Homo sapiens: one gene and its partners. The gene in region 1 interacts genetically with each later gene. Each region holds a gene or a part of one and is shown in the gene's direction. Other genes may lie near its edges. The genes, in order: EZH2, SREBF1, SEC24C, EP300, RICTOR, EED and MAN2A1.

Region 1 (2,205 bases):
CTGTTTTTTGATTACAGGTTGGTAAAGTACATTTCTAGCATGATCTCTAAGGGCTTTTTCTACTGGATTGTGAACTCTGGACAAAGGAGGGTTTTTAGTTCTTTGCTTCTTTTGATGGGTCACTTTGCCATGAGCATTAGTGGGGAATTAGGTTACACTTTCCTGTTATGTATTTATTATCCATTTATATATTATACAAGGCATGCTTATTTTTAAAATAGAGTAAAATCCATGCAGAAAGCCCCATTTCTCACCCTGCTGTTGACAGCTGGGTGAGTCCTAGACCTTCTCATATCATGCCGCATGCTGCATGCTCACTCGTGGAGCGTTTTCCAGATAAGTGCGATCACACTGTCCTATAGATTTTTCTGCAACATGGTTTTACTTGACAATATACTATGCATATCTTTATGGATTAGATCTACTTAATTTATTGTTTGCTATAATACTTATTACACATATCATTACCATTTTAAAAGGGGCTGTTGGCAAATCGCTGTCTGATCACCCTGTGGGGATGCCTGGGACACGTGGGCCACCAATGGTATCTGTGTGGTTAGGCATTAGGCTGCCAGTTGACACTGTCAAGCTCTGTGGGATACATTTAAGTCAGCCATTGAATACAGATTTAAGTGCAGTCAGATGACTGTCTAGTTAATGAACTCCTGTAGCCCCGTGTACATCCCATCCAGAAGCTGTCTTTGAGTACTGTGTTCTTGCATATTCAGGCTGGCCTTTAATGGCTGTTGCACAGCAGCGAGCTCTCAGTGAGGCAGACAGGGTCTGAGTGAAGGGCCCACTTTAGCAAAGGCCGCTGCCTTCACTCCAGGCTGGCTCTGAATGAAGAGTGTGGGGTGGAGCTTCCTTGGGATGACCCGGTGGCCTCACCCCCCATGGTGGGCTTCTTGTGCTCCTCTCTGGGTGTCCGCTGCACTCCAGTTCTTGCTTCACCTGGGGGAGCAACTGGCGGGCTGCTCTTTGGCCCTCTTTGCTATGGTCATCATTTTTTCCAGACCATGGTTCTATTTTGCCTTCCCAGCGTCAGGCCTAAGCATCCTGATGTGGACCAGCCTTCCTGGGACCACTTGCTTCAGAGGCATAGGGGAGGCTGGTCAGGCTCTGGGAATGCTTGTAGACAGGTTTGTTCACTTCAGAACTTGGCAGCGTCTCAATTAGATGGCCAGCAACACAGACCTATGCATTGCCTTCTATGAATGTGCCGTTATGCAGGCAGCTGTGTAATTGGATGGGTTTTTTTTTTTTTTTTTTTTTTAAAGACATTTTAATGCACCCACTATCTTCAGCAGGCTTTGTTGTGTTAAGTCTCAGCACATGTTGGATGGGTGGCCATCCAGCGGACATCTCCTTCCTGTTGTTTCAGATACAGCCAGGCTGATGCCCTGAAGTATGTCGGCATCGAAAGAGAAATGGAAATCCCTTGACATCTGCTACCTCCTCCCCCCTCCTCTGAAACAGCTGCCTTAGCTTCAGGAACCTCGAGTACTGTGGGCAATTTAGAAAAAGAACATGCAGTTTGAAATTCTGAATTTGCAAAGTACTGTAAGAATAATTTATAGTAATGAGTTTAAAAATCAACTTTTTATTGCCTTCTCACCAGCTGCAAAGTGTTTTGTACCAGTGAATTTTTGCAATAATGCAGTATGGTACATTTTTCAACTTTGAATAAAGAATACTTGAACTTGTCCTTGTTGAATCATCTCTCATAACGTGTCAATAACTGCTTTCAGGACTGCTCAACAAAAAACTTTTAAATTTAACTCCTTGGGTTTTTTAGTTGTCTTTGTATGAATCTTGATTTAACTAATACTGCCTGTGAATATGTGGAAGACATATATGAAGAACACTGCTGTGCATCCTGAGGGCTTACCCAGTAAAGGGCTTGATCTTATAGACAAGACCAGGGTGGGTACGTTCCAGTCAGCTGTGCAACCTGGAGAAAGAGATTTAACCTCCAAGTCTGTTCCCCATATATAAACTGACAGAGTAGACTTTTAGGTTATTTTTAAGAACGTACCTAGTTCTAAACTCCATTAGTCTAGATAGAGTTCTTTAGAAACAAACACAATATAAGTTGGGATTCCTTACCTACCTTATCACAAAAGGTGATTGATAGGTATAACCAAACTGTAGTTTTATATCTTCTCAGAGGTAAAAATCACAAACTCTGAAAGCGTCAAGGAAACG
Region 2 (3,500 bases), on another chromosome or scaffold:
AAACTGGGGCTCCACTCGGCTGCTTGAGATGCCCTGTTACTAGCAGTCCTGGTGTGCTTGTTGCCGGGGTAGGCGCAACCTCGCACTGGAGGCCTGGCTTGAAGCCAGTGCATTTGCATCAGAGCCCAGGCAGGGACTGTCCATAGGAAGCCACATGGGGCAATGACTCATCCAAGGCCAGTCGGTGATAGAGACCTGAAGAGCAGGTTGAAAGTGGGAGAGGGAGGTCTGTGTCTGCAGCCCCATGCTTTATTTCTGCAGGAAGCCCTCCCGGGAACACCCAGCAGCCGCTGCCTGGCCTGCCACTGGCTTCCCCGCCAGGGGTCCCGCCCGTCTCCTTGCACACCCAGGTCCAGAGTGTGGTCCCCCAGCAGCTACTGACAGTCACAGCTGCCCCCACGGCAGCCCCTGTAACGACCACTGTGACCTCGCAGATCCAGCAGGTCCCGGTGAGGGGGTCTGGCCAGGGGTTGGGGAGGGGGCAGCCCCAGCCCAGACACACAGCTTACAGCCAAGCCTCTCCCACCCTCAGGTCCTGCTGCAGCCCCACTTCATCAAGGCAGACTCGCTGCTTCTGACAGCCATGAAGACAGACGGAGCCACTGTGAAGGCGGCAGGTCTCAGTCCCCTGGTCTCTGGCACCACTGTGCAGACAGGGCCTTTGCCGGTGGGTGACGTGGGCAGGGCATAAGGGAGTGGGGTCTACACACACACACACATGCCCACCTGGTAACATGTGCCTGGCCCTGCAGACCCTGGTGAGTGGCGGAACCATCTTGGCAACAGTCCCACTGGTCGTAGATGCGGAGAAGCTGCCTATCAACCGGCTCGCAGCTGGCAGCAAGGCCCCGGCCTCTGCCCAGAGCCGTGGAGAGAAGCGCACAGCCCACAACGCCATTGAGAAGCGCTACCGCTCCTCCATCAATGACAAAATCATTGAGCTCAAGGATCTGGTGGTGGGCACTGAGGCAAAGGTGTGGAGAGGCCTGCAGGGGCACAGACCGGGGTGTCCCTAGGAAGGAACAGATCAGGGGCAACTGGAAGGAAGAGAGGGAGTGAGACTGAGCCTGGACAAGCAGGGAATTGGAATTCAGCCTCCCCAGGCCTGGCCAGCCTCGTTTATTTAGTTAAACTGGTTTGCAGGCCTCTTCAATAAAGGTGGGGCTGTGCTAGGCATTGGGGATGCAGCAATGAACAAGACAGACAAAAATTGTCCCTCAAAGAAGAGCCGACCTTCTGGTGGGGGAGATGGACAGTAGGCAGGATGAATAAGTGCTCGAGACCACCACGTTTGGCTCGTTGCAGAGAAAGCAGGAAGAGGATGGTGAGGGTCCCCTGGTGGTAGCCAGGGAAGGCCTCCCTGAGATGGCGGCAGGCACAGCAGCAGCTAGCCAGACCCTGCTGTCTGCATCTTACATTCTAACCCTATGCCCGGCCTGGGAGGTGGGTGCTACTAGGCGAGGAACGGTTCAGGTAGAAGGAACAAGTGCAAAGGTCCTGAGGCAGTAATGTTGCAAAGCAGCTCCGCACCCCCTTGCTAGGGCTCTCCAACCCCACAACCCCCGACCTGACAGGCCACCTGTGCGCTCCCCCTCCCTCCCACACCGTGCAGCTGAATAAATCTGCTGTCTTGCGCAAGGCCATCGACTACATTCGCTTTCTGCAACACAGCAACCAGAAACTCAAGCAGGAGAACCTAAGTCTGCGCACTGCTGTCCACAAAAGCAGTGAGTCCTGGCTTTATTGAGCTCCAGTCTGGCCTCTTCTCTAGCCTTGCTCCACCTCCCGGCCCCACCCCATCCCTAGCCCCACCCCACCCTTGGTTCTGGCCCACCCTCTGCCCTGCCCACCTCACCCTTGGCTGTAGCCCTGCATTCAGCTCTAGTCCCTTGGTTACCTCTGGTCCTGAAAGAGACCTGGTGCCTCCCTTTGGCCCTAACCCAGCCCCATCAAAGCGTCCTGGGCTAGCTTTAGGAGCTACAGTAGTCCCTAGGCCTCCAAGGGCCTAGGCTCTGATTTGGGGTCACATATCCAGCCTTTACTCCTGGCTCTGTTCCTTTCGGCCCACAGAATCTCTGAAGGATCTGGTGTCGGCCTGTGGCAGTGGAGGGAACACAGACGTGCTCATGGAGGGCGTGAAGACTGAGGTGGAGGACACACTGACCCCACCCCCCTCGGATGCTGGCTCACCTTTCCAGAGCAGCCCCTTGTCCCTTGGCAGCAGGGGCAGTGGCAGCGGTGGCAGTGGCAGTGACTCGGAGCCTGACAGCCCAGTCTTTGAGGACAGCAAGGTTGGGCCCTGCCACGGTGCCCCCTTCCCCACTCCCAGCCATATCCTCTGAGCCTCATGACAGGGCCGGGAAGACCCTAACAGATCCTACCTCCCATTTCATAGACAGAATAACTGAGGCCTGGAGCCACGTGGGGTCCCACAGTAAGGTGGGCAGAATCCTGACCCCCCCCTTCCCAGCCCCATGCTCTCTGGGGTCCCTCCGATTCTGCCCTCACCACCCTGCCCAACCCCACCAGGCAAAGCCAGAGCAGCGGCCGTCTCTGCACAGCCGGGGCATGCTGGACCGCTCCCGCCTGGCCCTGTGCACGCTCGTCTTCCTCTGCCTGTCCTGCAACCCCTTGGCCTCCTTGCTGGGGGCCCGGGGGCTTCCCAGCCCCTCAGATACCACCAGCGTCTACCATAGCCCTGGGCGCAACGTGCTGGGCACCGAGAGCAGAGGTGGGACCGGCCAGCCTGGGCATCTTTGGGAGGGACACTCGGGGTGAGCCCCCAGGCTTGTGAACTTGGGGCTCTGGATTTCCTGGGAGCTGTGTCCCCAGCTTTCCCTCTGTCCATAGATGGCCCTGGCTGGGCCCAGTGGCTGCTGCCCCCAGTGGTCTGGCTGCTCAATGGGCTGTTGGTGCTCGTCTCCTTGGTGCTTCTCTTTGTCTACGGTGAGCCAGTCACACGGCCCCACTCAGGCCCCGCCGTGTACTTCTGGAGGCATCGCAAGCAGGCTGACCTGGACCTGGCCCGGGTAAGGGGCTGGCCCCGGCAGAGTGGGCAGGGCAGGGACCCCAGGCTGTGAAGGTGCTGGGTGTCAACCCTTGTTCCTGCTCCCTGTGCACACCATGAATCTGTCCCGTCCTCCCTGTGCCTAGCCACGCATCCGCAGACCCCCACCACCCCTCCAGAGCCTGCTGTGGACGGCTCTTCTGAGCTTTGGGGCAGCTGCTCTGACCTCACTTTTCTCACCTGGAAAACCCTCATCCACAGGGAGACTTTGCCCAGGCTGCCCAGCAGCTGTGGCTGGCCCTGCGGGCACTGGGCCGGCCCCTGCCCACCTCCCACCTGGACCTGGCTTGTAGCCTCCTCTGGAACCTCATCCGTCACCTGCTGCAGCGTCTCTGGGTGGGCCGCTGGCTGGCAGGCCGGGCAGGGGGCCTGCAGCAGGACTGTGCTCTGCGAGTGGATGCTAGCGCCAGCGCCCGAGACGCAGCCCTGGTCT
Region 3 (3,500 bases), on another chromosome or scaffold:
GTGAGTGCCATTGTACTCCAGCCTGGGTGACAGAGCGAGACCCTGTCTCAAAAAAAAAAAAAAAAAAAAAAAAAAAACGTAAGGCTGGGCACGGTGGCTCACGCCTGTAATCCCAGCACTTTGGGAGGTTGAGGCGGGCGAATCACGAGGTCAGGAGTTCCGAGACCAGCCCGGCCAACATAGTGAAACCCCGTCTCTACTAAAAATACAAAAATTAGCCAGGCATGATGGTGGGCACCTGTAGTCCCAGCTACTCGGGAGGCTAAGGCAGGAGAATTGCTTGAACCCAGGAGGTGGAGGTTGTGATGGGCCAAGATCGCACCACTGCACTCCAGCCTGGGCGACAGAGTGAGACTCTGTCTCAAAAGAAAAGAAAAGAAAAAAAAAAGTAGAGACAGAGTATAGACCTATTCTTTTGTAATGTTTAGCTAAAAGGGGAGCAAAAGTTTGAGGGGGCTGTGAGGTAATTTGGTTGGATTTTTAAAAAGTTTTTTGAGATATAATTCATATACTGTGCAATTCGTCTGTTTAAAGTGTTTTTGTATATTTAGTGGTTTTTAATATATTGACAGATATGTGCTGTCACAATTTAGTATATTGACAGATATCACTACAGTCAGTTTTAGAACATTTTCATCATCTGAAGAAGAAATACTGCATTCTTTAACTACCCCTGTTTAGCTATTCCCCCATTCCCCTATTCTTCCAACCTTAAGCAACTCCTGATCTACTTTCTGTCTCTAAAGATTTCCCTATTCTGGACTTTTCATTAGAATAGAATCATATACTATGTGATATTTTATAACTGACTTCTTTAATTTAGCATAATATTTTCAAAGTTCAACTATGTTGTAGTGTATATTAGTACTCCATTCCTTTTTGTGGTTAAGTGGTTTTTCATTGTGTAGCTACATGCCACATTTTGTTTATCCATTCTTCTGCTGATAGACATTTGGGATGTTTCCACTATAGTTGGTTTTTGTGTGTGTGTGTGTGTGTGTGAGATGTTTGTATGTTTTTGTGCTGATGGGAATAATCAGAGAGGGAGACACTGAATGGAAAGTATATTGGAAAGACACTGTGGTAGACTGAGGCGGGCAGATTCGTTGAGCTCAGGAGTTTGAGACCAGCCTAGGCAACATGGCGAGACTCCGTATCTATAAAAAATGCGAAAACTAGCCACGCATGGTGGCGTGTGACTTTCGTTTCAGCTACTTGAGAGGCTGAGGTGGGAAGATCAGCTGAGCCTGGAAAGTTGAGGCTGCAATGAGCTGTGATCACACCACTGCACTTCAGCCTGGGTGGCAGAGTGAGACCCTGTCTCAAAAAAAAAAAAAAGCTGGACAATCAATCTGCATTTGTTTGATTTCATATTTATTAAGGTTCATGCATGCTTATGCGTGCCTTCCCTTTCAGTGCTTTCAGGGCTTCAGATTACAAAACTGAAGAGGTTTGTCAAAGAATTGAAGCAGAGGAAGCAGTAATTTAGTTAGCAGAGTAAATAGTACTTGACCTGAAGGTGCTTGGTTTATGTTTGTGGAGTGAGCTTAATGGAAAACAAGATTTGCCATGAATAATCAGGAATATAATTTACCCACAAATATACAAAAGTATGAAGCCATAAAAGAACTCAGGGTGTGAGAGTAAGATGTCACAAAACAATGTAGCTTCCTGTATGATGTGACACTTCTGTAGACTTCAAAGGGTGTCCTGGCCCCACTAGTCACCTCTGCTTGCTTTCTTTTCACAGGCTGCCTGGGTCTCAGCCATTTGGGTCCCCATTGGCCCCTGTGGGCAACCAGCCACCTGTGCTTCAGCCCTATGGCCCTCCCCCGACAAGTGCACAGGTGGCTACGCAGCTGTCTGGAATGCAGATCAGCGGTGCTGTGGCCCCAGCCCCTCCTTCTTCAGGGCTGGGCTTTGGTGAGTGGCTGTGAACACAGGAATGTTACTGTCCCCTGTTCAGAGGCATCAGACTCTGGGGTTATACCTGAATCTCTTTTATTTCCCTTGTATTTCCTGTGCCTCTGAGCCTCAGAAGATGGGACAGTCATATTTGCCCCTCTTGTGTGGAAAGGGAAGTGATATACCGAACAAGGAGGCAGAATGACTGGGCTTTTGACTCTACCTTTATTCTACTTCTCAGGCCCACCAACATCGCTGGCTTCAGCCTCAGGAAGTTTCCCTAACTCTGGTCTGTATGGCTCCTATCCTCAGGGCCAGGCTCCTCCCCTTAGCCAGGCCCAAGGTCATCCTGGGATCCAGACTCCCCAGCGATCTGCCCCATCACAGGCCTCCAGCTTCACACCCCCAGCTTCAGGGGGTCCTCGGCTGCCTTCGATGACTGGTCCACTCCTGCCTGGACAGAGTTTTGGAGGGCCCTCAGTGAGCCAGCCCAACCATGTGTCTTCACCTCCTCAAGCTCTGCCCCCTGGCACCCAGATGACTGGGCCCCTGGGACCACTGCCACCTATGCACTCCCCGCAGCAGCCAGGCTATCAGCCCCAACAAAATGGTGAGTCTTTCCCAAGGTCTGTCTTAGAAGCTAGAGGCTTCAGCTACTCAGGTGGTTTTTGATGTTTTTTATTTGTTTGTTTTTAGTATTACTTGCTAAGTGGTGAATTAGATGGGTAGCTTCAGGGTATTATTCCTAGGATATGGGGTTTGTAAGACATTATTTTTTCTTGTCGTTCTGATAACATGGTATTTTTCTGAATGTCTTTGCCAGGCATTAGTGTGCCTCATAATTCTATGTTTTTAGGAGTCTAGTCATTTTCCTGAGGCCTTAAGAAGAGATAGGGATGGGATTTTGAGTTCATCAACCTTGTGTCCTTGTCTCAGGTTCCTTCGGACCAGCCCGGGGCCCTCAGTCTAATTATGGAGGCCCCTACCCAGCAGCACCCACCTTTGGCAGTCAGCCTGGGCCTCCTCAGCCACTGCCTCCTAAGCGCCTGGACCCTGATGCCATCCCAAGCCCTGTAAGTAGAAACTTTCATGGTCCTGAGGAAGGGTTTGTGTCTGCCAGATAGGCAGGTCAATCTAGATGAAATGTTTGCCTAGCATTTTCTGATAATTTTCCCTTTTTGTTCATCTTCTTGGAGAACTTACATATAATTTGATTCTGAACTGGAACTTGAGGTTCTAGGAGTCTTTTGGGGGGCTGTTTTACTCTATAGCTGGGCAGAGAAGGAAGGGAAACCAAGAGTGAGCAGCAGCACCAGTAGATGTCTGAGGGCTGCACTCTGTCACTACTGTACATACATAGTATAGTAGCCTTTGTCCTTCTGTGGAGCAGTGACTGGGTCTTGTCCCCTTAGATCTAGAAGGATGGCATTCTTCCTAATGGGTAGAGCAGGTGGGAATTCTCTGATGTTAGATGTTAAGAGAAGGAAAGCCTCACTGGTTTCTCTGCTCTTACTTGGACAGTTTTAGGAGGAAGTCCCCAGTACTTTTGTTTGGTAGGCTTCTGCTGTGTGGATGGGGAAGAGTGAACGACAGTT
Region 4 (3,500 bases), on another chromosome or scaffold:
CCCTCAGCTTTTAGGAATCCCTGTAAGTATTTGGTGGTACTTTTGATTTTATTTTTTAATTTGATAACAGCTTTATTGAGAGATAATTCACATTCCAAACAGTATAGCCACTCATTTCAAATTTGTAATTCAGTGATTTTTTTTTTTTCCCCCTGAGACAGGGTCTTATTCTGGTTGCCTAGGCTGGAGTGCAGTGGCACGATCGTGGCTCACTACTGTCTCCACCTCCCGGGCTCAGGTGATTCTCCCACCTCAGCATCCTGAGTAGCTGGGATAACTACATTCATGTGCCACCTCACCTGGCTAGTTTTTTGTATTTTTTAGTAGAGACGGGGTTTCGCCATGTTGCCCAGGCTGGTCTTGAACGCCTGGACTCAAGCAATAGGCCCATCTCAGCCTCCCAGAGTGCTGGAATTACAGGTGTGAGCCACTGGGCCTGGCCTAATTCAGGGAGTTTTAGTATATTCACAGAGTTGTGCATGACACTTTCATTTTCATCATCTGAAAAAAATCCTTTACCATTAACAGTCACTCACTATTTTCTCCCATAGCACCCCAATCCTAGACATCACCAGACTGCATTCTGTCTCTGGATTTGTCTGTTCTACATGTTTCATTAAATTGGAACATACAGTATGTGATTCTTTGTGCCAGGACGTTCCTTAGCATAATGTTTTCAAGGTTCATCCATGTTGTAGCATGAATCAGTAGCACATACCTATTTATAGCCCAATAATATTCCATTATTTTTCTTTACCTGTTGATGAGTTGATAGACATTTAGGTTGTTTACACGTTTTGACTATTAAGATAGGACTGTAGTGAACATTGTGTGGATTTAAGTTTTTATTTCTCCTTGGTATTTACCTAGGAGTGGAATTCCTGGGTTATATAGTTTGTTTACTTTTTTGTTGTTGTTATTTGTTTTTTGTTTTTTTGAGATGGAGTTTCACTCTTGTTGCCCAGGCTAGAGTGCAATGGCGCAATCTCAGTTCACCTCAACCTCCCCCTCCCGGGTTCAAGCAGTTCTCCTACCTCTCAGCCTCCCGAGTAGCTGGGATTACAGGCATGTGCCACCATGCCCGGCTAATTTTGTATTTTTAGTAGAGATGGGGTTTCTGTATGTTGGTCAGGCTGGTCTCAAACTCCCAACCTCAGATGATCCACCCACCTCGGCCTCCCAGAATGCCCAGATTACAGGCGTGAGCCACCGCACCCGGCCACTTTCGTTGTTTCAAGAGCAATAGGTCATAGCAGAAAAAAGGACCGTGGTTAGCTTTGTTTTTAAAGTTGCCTCCATATACTAGGCTGCTGGCAGATTTCATTTGGTGGTTTTAAACTGTTACTTGGCCGGGCACGGTGGCTAACGCCTGTAATCCCAACACTTTTGGAGGCCAAGGCAGGCAGATCACTTGAGTTCAGGAGTTGGAGACCAGCCTCACCAACATGGTGAAACCCCATCTCTACTAAAAATATAAAAAGTAACTGGGCGTGGTGGTGCACGCCTGTAATCCTGGCTACTTGGGAGGCTGAGGCAGGTGAATAGTTTGAACGACCCTGGGAGGCAGAGGTTGCACTGAGCCAAGATTGCACCACTGCACTCCAGCCTGGGCAACATGTTGACAGAGACTCCATCTCAAAGGTCAAGTGCTTCCAGGGGCAAAAGCCTTTTAGGACTTTTCCTCTCTTGTATCTTGCTGTGATTTCAGATGGAACATTTTAAGTTCTGTGGGCTTAGTTTCCTCATTGTACACCCCTTCTAGTACTAAAATTTTAAATGTCTTTGACTTTACTGATCTCACATGTACTTTCATAAAGAACCTGAAGTTGCTTCAGTAGAATATCAGCCTGATGTCTAGAAAGTCCATAGTAGTTCTGTTTCTCTGCCCTTTGAGTAGTTTAATATCTCTGTAAACTAATATTTAAAGAAGTGATGGACATCAGTCACCTCTTGGGGAATATAGACAGGCCAGAAACTAAAACACTGCCTGGAAAATTAACAATGATAATGGATGATACTCCATCTCCCGTAAAAATAGTGAGACTTGAGTAATGTTTGATGTCACTTGTCTTTCTAGGATTACTTTGATATTGTGAAGAGCCCCATGGATCTTTCTACCATTAAGAGGAAGTTAGACACTGGACAGTATCAGGAGCCCTGGCAGTATGTCGATGATATTTGGCTTATGTTCAATAATGCCTGGTTATATAACCGGAAAACATCACGGGTATACAAATACTGCTCCAAGCTCTCTGAGGTCTTTGAACAAGAAATTGACCCAGTGATGCAAAGCCTTGGATACTGTTGTGGCAGAAAGGTAAGAAATGTGTTTCAGATTTGACTTTAACTTTTCTGGGATACCTAGAATAATATAGTGGTGACTGGGATAAGAGAATATCCTGCTTCTGGCTTTGACATGGCTTTTTTTTTTTTTTTTTTTTTTCCTTTTTGACAGGGTCTTATTCTCCCAGGCTGGAGTGCAGTGGTGAGGTCATAGCTCACTGCAGCTTCAACCTCCTGGGCTCAAGCAATTCTCCCACCTCAGCCTCCTGAGCAGCTGGGACTACAGCCGTACGCCACCATGCCTGGCTGATTTTTTAAATTTGTTTTGTAGAAACAGGGTCTCATGATGTTGCTCAGGCTAGTCTTGAACTCCTGGGCTCAAGCAGTCCTCCTGCCTCGGCCTCCCAAAGTGCTGGAATTACAGTCATGAGCCACCTCTCCCAGCCAACACAGTCTTTCTCTTACTGTGTGCCACAGTAGTAATATCTCTTAATATGAAATGGGCTTTCTTTAAAGGCATTTTTTCAGAGTGGCAATTGTATGGAAAAGTTGACTAATTAAATAATCAACAGACTGTTAACTCATCTGGAGTAGGGGCATTCTTATATTCACCTGTGGGTGCAGATTCCTCAGCATGTGCTGGCTTTCCTGTACATACCAATTCACATTATTGGTTTTTTGTTTTTAAAATAAGACTATGGTCTTGCTGTGTTGCCTAAGCTGGTCTGGAACTCTTGGGCTCACGCAGTCTTCCCACCTCAGCTTCTGAGCACTGCAGGCATGTGCCACCCTGCCCAGCTATTCCTGTTAGGTTCTTTGGTAAAGTGATGGAAGGATATGACTGCTAAGCCTACCTCAGCGTTTTGAAATAATGTGGTAGTAAACTGAGAATGATTTTCAGGAACTGAATTAGCCCATCATTATTAACATAAATGAGAACTAAGACACCACTGACTTCTGTTTCTGACTTGCCATTCTTACTGTTCTAGCTTGTCCTTAAGGCCTCTGTGCTTTTTAACAAATGGTTTCTTTTGCAGTTGGAGTTCTCTCCACAGACACTGTGTTGCTACGGCAAACAGTTGTGCACAATACCTCGTGATGCCACTTATTACAGTTACCAGAACAGGTAAGCTTGGCCAGGTGTGGACCATGGTCCATGTGTCCACATGTCCAGGGAGTGCATGCGGATGGGCCAGCACACATACAGTCATGGTTCA
Region 5 (3,500 bases), on another chromosome or scaffold:
GTAATCCATCTAGCCCTTACATTATTCTTAATAACATTAAGCAGTTTTGTTTCAATAATGCTTAACACATTTAATAGAGGGTTTCTTGGTAGCAGACAATGAATTGTGTACCCTTACAGGATTTAAGAAATTATGCAGCAATGTCTCATCTATCTGGAACTCACTAGCTTTGGCAACCTTGTCCAGGACAAAGCCAGGGAAAGTTCTCAACAGCTCACTGTTACAAATCTATGCAGTAAAGTTCATGAATTTTGAACATTCCTAAGCCTCAGTTACCTCATCTGGTGGAGATTGCACTAGATCAGTGGTTGTAAACTTTTGTATTGTTGTTTTTTAAGCAGAGAAATTATTTTTTCACATAAAGATTTCTGTGGAAACCCAATAGGTAGAATAGATAGAAAGGGACCTATACTGGTTGAAATAGGAATTGGGAAGGGGAATAATCCAATAATTGTTTTCCTCCCACTCCAGTAATCCTTGAAGAGTTTTATGGGAACCAAAGAAATGTAACAGATTACAGTTTGAAAGAGTGTTTTTTGGGTGGAAATTAGGAGCATGGTTTTTGCTATGTTAATAGCTACTATTTAGAAAGCATTTCTTTTGTGTGTTTTACAAAATAATTATTTGATTTAATATTAGGCTGCATTCGTACATTTTAAAGACTTGGTTTTCCAAACAAAAATATCTTCATATAAATGTATATAAATGTGGAACCTTGCATAGTGCCTTGTATATATACAGCAGATACCAAGTAAATATTTTAGCATGTCTGTTGCATAAGTAAGAATCTGTATGAGAAACATGTATCTTATGGAAATATCAGTGTATCATATTTGTTATGGAATCTCTAGTAGTAAGGAGTACATTGTGGAAATATCAGTACATTGTGGAAATATCAGTGCTTTTTACAAGGATATCTCGTCATAAATGACCATTTTGCTCTTGTGTCTGTCTTGTGTGCTACATAAATCTTATGTTGATAATGAAGGCATTAAGGTAATTATCACACAAATAATGATATGTAATTGATCTCATTTTTTATAAATATAATATTAAATAGAGTTGATACACATATCCTTAGTTACATAAATGCCAAATCTAGTAGTCTCAAGTGATTATGAAGATAGTCCTTGGACCATGCTCTGACTACTGAGGTCAGTTTCTTTTTTTACTTCTAGATGTTGAAAGTTATTCTAATTGCCCACCTTTTCACCTTTACCTGAGAGACCATAACAGTTGTTTTTGGTAACAGTCAACATTACTGGTGACCTTTTACATAGCGGTCTATAACAGCTAATATTTTAAAGTGTTTATGTGTTGCCAGTAAACAAGATGACACTGCTTAATACATGACTAGCTACTTGTCTTTTATGAAGGTAGGAATATATGTTATTTCTTCATATGATTAAAATTACAGATCAAGAAACTAATGCAAGTGGTTTCTTTATGGTTTTATAGGTTCATGAAAGCCTTAAGTTATGCATCATTAGATAAAGAAGATTTATTGAGTCCTATTAATCAAAATACCCTGCAACGATCTTCCTCAGTGCGGTCCATGGTGTCCAGTGCCACATATGGGGGTTCAGATGATTACATTGGTCTTGCTCTCCCGGTGGATATAAATGATATATTCCAGGTATTATCATACATTTTATTGTTTTCCTATGAGTTGGTTTCCTATTTTTTCATATGCTGTAACTGCTTACTAGAAATCATAATTTAGGGTGGGCACCAGTTTGGGGCAGCATGATTTTTAAGACCGTTTTGTTTAAAGAAACTTTAAGATTAAAATTATTTTGCCCTTTTCAACTACTCTGTACTCTTTTATTTAGTCCTTAGAACATTATCCTTCCCTCTCTTCCCATATTAAATCAGTATCTCATTTGATTTCTTTATCCATATATTCTCTGTAGAAATTTATGAAATTTCTAACTTGTTTTTTAGTCACATTTAACTTATACCTCATTTTTAAATCCTCATTCCTATTTATCCCATAAAAGGTAGCCAGCCATATGTGGTACCCAGTAATATAAGGTGACCCTAATCCCAGGAGATACCCACAGATCTCTAGATGGTATATAGTACTAAAGAACACATTTTCTTAGAAGTTGAAAGACATTTTAGATAAACGCTAAAATAATTAATGTCCATTTAGTCACTAATAATATAATAAGGACTTTTTGGGTTATTTTGTTAAGTTTTGGTAGTTGAACCTTCAGTAAACTTGATTATAGGTTCATATGCTATGGTAATTCTATTTTAATTTTATTTTGTTTAATTTTGCTAATTTTCATAAAGTGGGCTTATTTTTATAGCAGGACTTACCATGGTTTATATCTTTTTTTAGGTAAAGGATATTCCCTATTTTCAGACAAAAAACATACCACCACATGATGATCGAGGTGCAAGAGCATTTGCCCATGATGCAGGAGGTAATGCATTGTGCATTGTACTTGTGAGATGCCTCTTTATATTAAAAAGAAAACTCTTAGTTCTTTCTAGTAGGATAACACTAAAAATTTAGGAAGACTCACTTTTGGATCAACTTTAAAATTATACCAAAACAATTGTTAAAGTCAGCTTAAAATTAAACCACATTTTTGTGTATGTGTGAGGGACTTAACAGTGTTTTCAGTGAAGTACTCAACCTTTCAAGGAAATAGAAACCAAATTAGTTGTTTCTGTTTTTTAAAAGTAGCACATGAACAATGTATAACACTAATCCTCATAGATCCAGGAAATAGCTGTTTGTTTAGAGTAAGGAGAAAGAAATGTACTTATAAAATACACGGTCTTTGTTTTGAACTGTTATATTTTAATATGTAAATATAAGCCACAGGTTTTATAGCTTTATATTCTTAATGACTTTTTAAACAAATGCCTCTTTATACTTAGAATTATTACATATCTTTAGGCAAATATTGACGATAATTGAAATGATGTATTATATAATCTCAATTTTCCATTTTGTATTTAAAACACTATATATTAAAATAATAAACATCTGCTGGCTTTCCTTATTTTTATAACTTAAAGCAAATTATTCTTTTTTTCTTTCCAGTTAGATTTTGAGTCATAAAATGTGCTTAAGCTTTCTTTAAAATTTCACATAATTTAAGGTACCTTGAAAAGTATTATCTTTATTGGATTATGTTTTATATTTACTTATGCACAGGTCTTCCATCTGGAACTGGAGGTCTTGTAAAAAATTCTTTTCACTTGCTACGACAGCAGATGAGTCTTACGGAAATAATGAATTCAATCCATTCAGATGCCTCTCTGTTTTTAGAAAGTACAGAAGACACTGGACTACAGGAACATACAGATGATAACTGCCTTTATTGTGTCTGTATTGAAATTCTGGGTTTCCAGCCCAGCAACCAACTGAGTGCAATATGTAGTCATTCAGGTAAGTGATCACGTCCCACCTTCAGAAAAACCTAGTGATGACTAAAGTTCTCTGGTTTACTTTTCCAAATTTCTTTTTGGTATTCTAATTC
Region 6 (3,500 bases), on another chromosome or scaffold:
AATGCAAAGGCTGGATTAACATATAGTATCTAGGTTAGTAAGGAAAATATACTCCTTCAATAGAACTCTCTACTGTTATTTCTTAGAATGAGAGCAGGAGACAGTATGTAGCTCTTCTGTGTAATACAGGAGTTCACTGGAGGTGGATAGGTGTGTGAGATTTTCATTACTCATTATGTGCCTTTTGCTAAATTAAATAGCATCTCTGGGCCTTAGTGTCTGCCTATGAAATGAGGTTGTTACAATAGATGATCTGTTACATGCCTGTTAAAAATTAGTAAACAGCAAATGAAAAAAGTTAAAATCTGTTTTTTATTAGACTTTTAAAAATTCACTTAAAAGTGAACTCTAAAACTAACTTCAAAATATTTTGACTTAGAATTATAAAGTAAGATGTCAGCTCTTTAAGGATTCATGTATTTTCACATGCACATGTCAGTTTCATTGGTTGGTTGAGGTTGGATAGGAAAAGTAATATCACTATTCAGCTCTTTGTGTCAGAATAATTATTTTAACTTAGTATTCAATTTACCTTCAAAATAAGCAAAATAAATATTTTAGTGTAATTGAATAGATAAAACTAAGTTTAAGTAATTTTTTCTTGGTTTATACATTGTAAATGCTCTTATATTCCGATGTTGACAAACTAATTAAAGCTGTAAATCTTGAAAGTAGTAAACTCTGATTTATGGCCTATTTAGATGAAACCCAAAATGTAGTTTGTATTGTGATTTGAAATACAGTTTTCACTATGTTGCACATTAGGCAAAAATTGGATAAATATAATTTGGAGCTGTAATTTATATAAAACTTTTTGGTTTTGCATACAGGATTATGATCTTTTGGGTGAAAAAATAATGTCCTGTGGTATGGATCATTCTCTTAAACTTTGGAGGATCAATTCAAAGAGAATGATGAATGCAATTAAGGAATCTTATGATTATAATCCAAATAAAACTAACAGGTAACAGTTGTGGTATTTGAAACAATTTGCTATGTTGTGCTATTGAATATAAGTTTTATTTTTTCCCAAAATTGCTATATAAGCCCCAACAATGAGTTTAGAAGACCTTCTTTTAACTTTAAGGGACAATTTACATACTGTAAAATTCACCCCTTTAAGAAGTCCTTTATTTGCAGTGTTTGTGGCTTAGTTTTCAAAATCCCCTTTAAATTGTGTTGTCATCTTAACTTAGTAGCACATTTTACTTATTTGTATTTTGGTATGCATATGCTTGGCCTTTTAAGTTATAAATGTAAAAGTTTTAAATCACTTAAGCTTATTATGGACTAGGGAGAGTAAAGGACACTTTAGAATAATGTTAACTTTTTTTAAATGATGCTAATTCTAATTCAAGATGGTAAACCACAGTTTTAAACAATGGAGTTCTTAGCTCTAATTCATGATAATGTTTTTCCCTAAATGATGCTCACTTGATTAAATGGAGAGAATTCAAATGCAGGAGCCTCACTTCATGGTACTATAGGTTGGGGAATTTTGCAGTTTTCTTAGTATATTTTTGAAATGTCTCAATTCTTAATGCAGTAACTGTCTTTAGAATCTTATCAGGCTGTCATTAACACTTTCACTATAAACGTTGTATGTCTGCATGTTAACTTTGTTGGCACTTTTGTTTTAGCAAAGAGCTAGAATTCATTTTCTGGTTATCAAGCCAGATTGTTAATAGATTATTAAATTTGTAAGCATCAGTAAATATTTCAATGCACTAACATTCATCAGACCTAAGTGTCCTCTAAGAATTATTAAAAGTTTTACCTTTCTCCTTTAAAACACCAGGAGCTAGTAGGACAATGTTAAATTTATATTTTTAGATTATTTTCTAGATATCTGGAATAAATACAAACTATATTTCAGAGTTTTCAAAAAATAACAGTTGTACTCGTTTTTTCTTTGAGAGAGGTTTGGCCATACAATTATAGTATGTATTTAGCTAAAAAGCAATTAATATAATTATAGCAGAGTTAAGAATTTATATCAGATCACGAATAACATTTTAATGTTTCAACAAAATATCCCAGAATTTGAATTGGAAGGATTGTTTTGAGTTGCTCCAATCCAAAGTGCTTTTTTACATATCTGAGGGAAAAGGTAAAGAGAGGACATATGAATTGCCTAAGACAACTAATTCATGGCATATTATACTTATACAGCTATTTCTGATTTAAAACTGAGTATATTAGGAATGTTAAGTGTACTGTTAAATAACTCCAGAATTAATAGCAGCTTGTTTTGTTTCTTCTCACAAATATCTCTAATGAAAACAGTGTTGCCATTTAGTTTCCTAAATACAGAAATTATTTGGAAAAGTCCTAGGAAATTTTATTTTGTTCTATTTGTTTTTTTGAGACGGAGTTTTGCTCTTGTTTCCCAGGCTGGAGTGCAGTGGTGCAATCTTGGCTCACTGCAACCTCTGCCTCGCAGGTTCAAGCGATTCTCCTGCCTCAGCCTCCCAAGTAGCTGGATTACAGGCGGCCGCCACCATGCCTGGCTAATTTTTTTTTTTTTTTTTTTTGTATTTTTAGTAGAGATGGGGTTTCACCATGTTGGCTAGGGTGGTCTCGAACTCCTGACCTCAGATGATCCACCTGCCTCGGCCTCCCAAAGTGCTGGGAGCCACCGCACCCACCCCCACTTAAGAAATTTTAAATTCCTGTAAGGCATCATTTTCAGAAATTATTGCTCAAGGCAGGACTGTAGATGTATCTTTAGCAGACTTTGGAATGATGTTTAGTTGTTCCTGGAAAGATGACTATCTTTTGAAATAGTGTAGATATATTGACTTTCATAGATTATTAATGCTTAATTTTAAGGACTGAGTAGGTAGCTTAGTATATTTTCAGTGAGAAACTGATCAGGCCTTTATTATTGGTTAGGGTACCCAGAATTGAGGTGATTAATTTTGGGTTATATATAGTAAAACGCAGGAAACTACAATGTTTATAAACAAAGTATCTATCATAGGACAAAGATAAAATTGGATAATAATGGAGAAAAATAAACAAAAGTGGAATGAGACTTTAGCTTTCAATAAATAGATAAGGTGGTTGGTTATGTAGGAACACAGAGGAATTAATAGTCTTACATTTTGTTTTTCCAAGTTTTATAAATCCAAAAATGAAAAAGAGTATGATTCTACTATAATTTTTTCTTTTAACTTTTTACATTTCCATTCTTCCTTCAGGCCATTTATTTCTCAGAAAATCCATTTTCCTGATTTTTCTACCAGAGACATACATAGGAATTATGTTGATTGTGTGCGATGGTTAGGCGATTTGATACTTTCTAAGGTATGGTAACTGCAGTTAAGCTGTACTTCCATCGTGTGTGTGTGTGTGTGTGTGTGTGTGTGTGTATGTGTGTGCGCATGTTGGAACTTGGCAGGGAGCACTTTATGTAGTTTATTAAATTGAATGGCAGCTGGGAAGTTGCCTTTTTTAAAGTCTCATATTTTGATATATTTAGAAACTTGTTTTAAGAA
Region 7 (3,500 bases), on another chromosome or scaffold:
CGTGCTCCTATGAGAATCTAATGCTGCTGCTGATCTGACAGGAGGTGGAGCTCAGGCGGTAATGCTTGCTGACCTGCTATGCCACTCACCTCCTGCTGTGTGGCCTGGTTCCTAACAGGTCCATGGCCCTGGGGTTGGTTGCCCCCTGTATAGAGCATGTTGCTCTCTGGTACCTTAGCTTATGACTAAAGGAACTTTTATTTTGAAGCCATAATGAATATGGTCCTTTTTCTGAAACATTTACTGCTAGAGATTTATACCCTTCCCAGAATGTCTTTGAGCTCATTTCAGAGCTAAACATTATAATGAAAACCATTGTGTAGTCCAGCATCCAGAACTTGAGTTGATTCTTTTTTTTTTCACTGCTTCTAACTTATTCTTAATAATACCAAACATAGCAAAAGGAGGTTGCAATACATTTGTTTGGCAAGTTTGGGTATTGAATTCTTGAGTTTTAGTAGAGCCAAGCAGGTCGGTCACTATGTGTCATTTTTTGGTATCTAGTAGAACGGTTTATTTAGATAGGTATTGGGTTCCTCTAAATTGCCCATTTAGTTGGTTTCAGTTGATACGGAACCTTCACTAGGCTTTAGGTCTATCTTGTAAACAAGATATTTTTAAAGACCATCCTAGATTGAGAGCAATCTATTTGTTGTTTTTTTGGAGAGCGGGGGTTTGTTCTTTTTCTCTTCTCTCACAACTCTGGTGTTTTCCACCATTTGGCTGGACTCTGGGGCAAGAGTGGGCTGGCCGAGGGTGCTCCAGTTTCTCTCACCCCGGAACAGCTGCCTGCCTCTAAGATATTCTTTGGAAGTCTATCCTGAAGCACTCCGAAGCCTTGCTTCTGCTTCTGGGAGGAATTCCTTGGAGGACTAGAGGCAACAGGGGGCCTAATCTGTTGAAACTTGTGTGTATATTTCAGGGTTAATAAATCTCAGCTAAGAAAATTAATAAAAATTCCACTGTGAATGAGAGGTTGGTCAGAGACTAATGTCTTGAAAATGCTTTATGATAACTTGGAAGAATTTGAGCAGATGGAAAGGAGAAACTTTGTTAAGGTCTCCCTGAAATTAGTCATCACTTCTTACAAGCAGATTTCACAAGGTGCTTACTATCTATGGTGTGTATAATAGGGTTGTCTTATTAATTAGTCTGATGTTTGGATCTGGAGAAGTAAATTAATGAGTCAGGTTTTGTATAACAAATGATCACTTTTTAAGTAATTAGTGTAGCATATGACCGTAGAGATTAATATTAACTCTTAAAATATGGAAATTGAGACTCCGATGGAAAATGTGAAAGTGAAGTTAAAACTTTATCTTTTTGCCTATGTAACATTTATCAAGTGAGAAAGTGAGAATGCCTTTAAATAAGCATTTGATTGAAAGCCATTAGAAGGTGAGAACTTGTATACCTTTTTTTTTTTTTCTTTGGGATAGGGTTTTGCTCTGTCATCCAGGCTGGAGTGCAGTGATGGAATCACAGCTTACTGCAGTGGCCTTGAATTCTTGGGCCCAAGCCATTCTCCCACCTCAGCCTTCTGAGTAGCTGGGACTACAGGTGTGTATGCCACTGTGCCCAGCCAGTTTTAAAATTTTTATTTTGTGGAGACGGGGTCTTACTATGTTGACCAACTGGTTTCAAATTCTTGGCCTTAAGCTATTCTCCTGCCTCAGCCTTCCAAAGTGCTGGGATTATAGGTGTGATTCACTGCTCCCAGTTGCCTTTTGTGTTTTTTTTTTTTAACTTACTGTAATACACATACAGAAATGTGCTTACATACTTTACATCAGTAGTACTTAAGAGTCCAGCATAGTAGATGTTATTAATGAAAGTTGACTCATGGCAATACATATAACTAGGACTTTGATTCCCCAGTTTTTTTCTTGCTTTCATAAATCTGTAAATCTTACTTAAGAATGACATATAAGGAAAATATGATCTCCTTCCCCTTCCTTGAGTGCAGTCTATTTATAAACAATAGCACTTGGTGCTGGGGTTTGTTCACGTTTGTATGAGGGAGATTGTCTTATTTTCTGGGATATAATGCGGAGATCTGTGCTTTTTGGGAAGTGATGGAACGTTGATAGTGCATCCAGCATTTAGGAATGCAAGAACAAACATTAGAGCCTTTTGAGGATGGTGTCCTCTAACTCCTCTTCAGTCCAACAGCCCTGTGGGTCTCTTCCTGATCAGCATTTTTCACTAAGACCCAAACTTATTTCCTGTAAACCAACTGGGCCAGATACTCATGACTGTCTGTGGTCTGAAGATAGTAGTTTATGTTTTGTTTTTTGTTTTTTTTAAATTGAATTGGGTGTGTTGTTCCCAGATGAACACTGTTATCAGGGCCTAAACAAATATTTTTGTCAGGGAGATGTCACAATTGTATTATTGGAAGGGGATTTTCTCTCTTAGCTTTTAATTTGCATTAAGAGGTGTCTGGGCTGTGGGCAAAATAGTGGCTAAAATGACCACTTTTATTTGTTTTTGAGTCAGCTATTGCTTTTTGTGATAACTGAAAACTTTAGTCTTTTTTGAAGGACTGAAGTGTTGAGAGTTTCCTGGAATGAGTGGTTCACTAGCTGTTGCTGATCACCTGGTTTATTCTTAGCTTTTTTTGCATTCAGGAGTCTTAGTTTTCCCTTGTTCTCCAACTTCTGTAATCTTTAAGAAAATGAAAGGATATTTAGCAGCTCTGATGACCTGTATTTGCTGGATTGTAAAGGCCTTATTGCATTTTTTATCCCTTCTGTCTTGGTAAAAGTTCCTGATAGCAGCAGCTTTTATAAAAGTTTGAGCAGAACTAAGGCAAGGAGGAAGAACTCTAAAATAGTGATTTTTGCTTCTCAGTTGTTATTAGTAGGTTAATCAGGAGAGGAAGTAGGACATTTTAACTAAAATGGGTTTCTGTTTCAGTTATCAAGCCAAGCTGCTATTTTTAAGTTTGAAACCATTTTTAAATTCAGACAGGTTTGAGGATTAATTGTACTGAAATGGAGCTCACATCTAGTGCTTTAGTGAGTATAGCTAAATGTGCCTATAATAGGGAGGAAGTAAATCATTTGGTTTGATGAACTCTGTCACTTGAGGTCATATCATAGCTTTTCTGAAAGAGTGCCCTGTTTAAGGTAATTATATTTTATGCAGACAGGTGGATAGTAGGTATCTAGTATATATCTTTTTTTTTTTTGAGACGGAGTCTCACTATGTTGGCAGACTGGAGTGCAGTGGTGCAATCTCAGCTCACTGCAATCTCCACCTCCCGGGTTCAAGCGATTCTCCTGCCTCAGCCTCCCGAGTAGCTGGGATTACAGGCACAAGCCACCATGCCCAGCTAATTTTTGTATTTTTAGTAGAGACGGGGTTTCACCATGTTGGCCAGGATGGTCTCGATCTCCTGATCTCGTGATCTGCCCGCCTTGACCTCCCAACATGTTGGGATTACAGGCGTGAGCCTCTGCGCCTGGTTGGTATCTCTTAAATATCTTAATGTTAAA

The links.
Region 2: changes in EZH2 (region 1) and SREBF1 together harm fitness more than expected from each alone (negative genetic interaction), as found in Homo sapiens cells (one large-scale study listed by BioGRID).
Region 3: changes in EZH2 (region 1) and SEC24C together harm fitness less than expected from each alone (positive genetic interaction), as found in Homo sapiens cells (one large-scale study listed by BioGRID).
Region 4: changes in EZH2 (region 1) and EP300 together harm fitness less than expected from each alone (positive genetic interaction), as found in Homo sapiens cells (one large-scale study listed by BioGRID).
Region 5: changes in EZH2 (region 1) and RICTOR together harm fitness less than expected from each alone (positive genetic interaction), as found in Homo sapiens cells (one large-scale study listed by BioGRID).
Region 6: changes in EZH2 (region 1) and EED together harm fitness less than expected from each alone (positive genetic interaction), as found in Homo sapiens cells (one large-scale study listed by BioGRID).
Region 7: changes in EZH2 (region 1) and MAN2A1 together harm fitness more than expected from each alone (negative genetic interaction), as found in Homo sapiens cells (one large-scale study listed by BioGRID).

Annotation. Positions count from the first base shown.
Region 1 is NC_000007.14:148,806,883-148,809,087, reverse strand, and holds the end of EZH2 (histone-lysine N-methyltransferase EZH2), read left to right. Parts: coding exon 1-17; intron 18-1,381; coding exon 1,382-1,442; 3' UTR 1,443-1,705; downstream 1,706-2,205. UniProt on the Homo sapiens protein: Polycomb group (PcG) protein. Catalytic subunit of the PRC2/EED-EZH2 complex, which methylates 'Lys-9' (H3K9me) and 'Lys-27' (H3K27me) of histone H3, leading to transcriptional repression of the affected target gene.
Region 2 is NC_000017.11:17,816,487-17,819,986, reverse strand, and holds part of SREBF1 (sterol regulatory element-binding protein 1), read left to right. Parts: intron 1-261; coding exon 262-449; intron 450-532; coding exon 533-667; intron 668-752; coding exon 753-974; intron 975-1,612; coding exon 1,613-1,727; intron 1,728-2,070; coding exon 2,071-2,291; intron 2,292-2,395; coding exon of another isoform or gene 2,396-2,439; intron 2,440-2,529; coding exon 2,530-2,731; intron 2,732-2,850; coding exon 2,851-3,029; intron 3,030-3,268; coding exon 3,269-3,500.
Region 3 is NC_000010.11:73,757,872-73,761,371, forward strand, and holds part of SEC24C (protein transport protein Sec24C), read left to right. Parts: intron 1-1,750; coding exon 1,751-1,923; intron 1,924-2,146; coding exon 2,147-2,515; intron 2,516-2,841; coding exon 2,842-2,978; intron 2,979-3,500. UniProt on the Homo sapiens protein: Component of the coat protein complex II (COPII) which promotes the formation of transport vesicles from the endoplasmic reticulum (ER).
Region 4 is NC_000022.11:41,155,092-41,158,591, forward strand, and holds part of EP300 (histone acetyltransferase p300), read left to right. Parts: coding exon 1-22; intron 23-2,077; coding exon 2,078-2,317; intron 2,318-3,320; coding exon 3,321-3,409; intron 3,410-3,500. UniProt on the Homo sapiens protein: Functions as a histone acetyltransferase and regulates transcription via chromatin remodeling. Acetylates all four core histones in nucleosomes. Histone acetylation gives an epigenetic tag for transcriptional activation.
Region 5 is NC_000005.10:38,945,400-38,948,899, reverse strand, and holds part of RICTOR (rapamycin-insensitive companion of mTOR), read left to right. Parts: intron 1-1,458; coding exon 1,459-1,636; intron 1,637-2,347; coding exon 2,348-2,432; intron 2,433-3,175; coding exon 3,176-3,409; exon of another isoform or gene 3,410-3,500. UniProt on the Homo sapiens protein: Component of the mechanistic target of rapamycin complex 2 (mTORC2), which transduces signals from growth factors to pathways involved in proliferation, cytoskeletal organization, lipogenesis and anabolic output.
Region 6 is NC_000011.10:86,265,253-86,268,752, forward strand, and holds part of EED (polycomb protein EED), read left to right. Parts: intron 1-830; coding exon 831-964; intron 965-3,203; coding exon 3,204-3,309; intron 3,310-3,500. UniProt on the Homo sapiens protein: Polycomb group (PcG) protein. Component of the PRC2/EED-EZH2 complex, which methylates 'Lys-9' and 'Lys-27' of histone H3, leading to transcriptional repression of the affected target gene.
Region 7 is NC_000005.10:109,692,927-109,696,426, forward strand, and holds part of MAN2A1 (alpha-mannosidase 2), read left to right. Parts: intron 1-3,500. UniProt on the Homo sapiens protein: Catalyzes the first committed step in the biosynthesis of complex N-glycans. It controls conversion of high mannose to complex N-glycans; the final hydrolytic step in the N-glycan maturation pathway.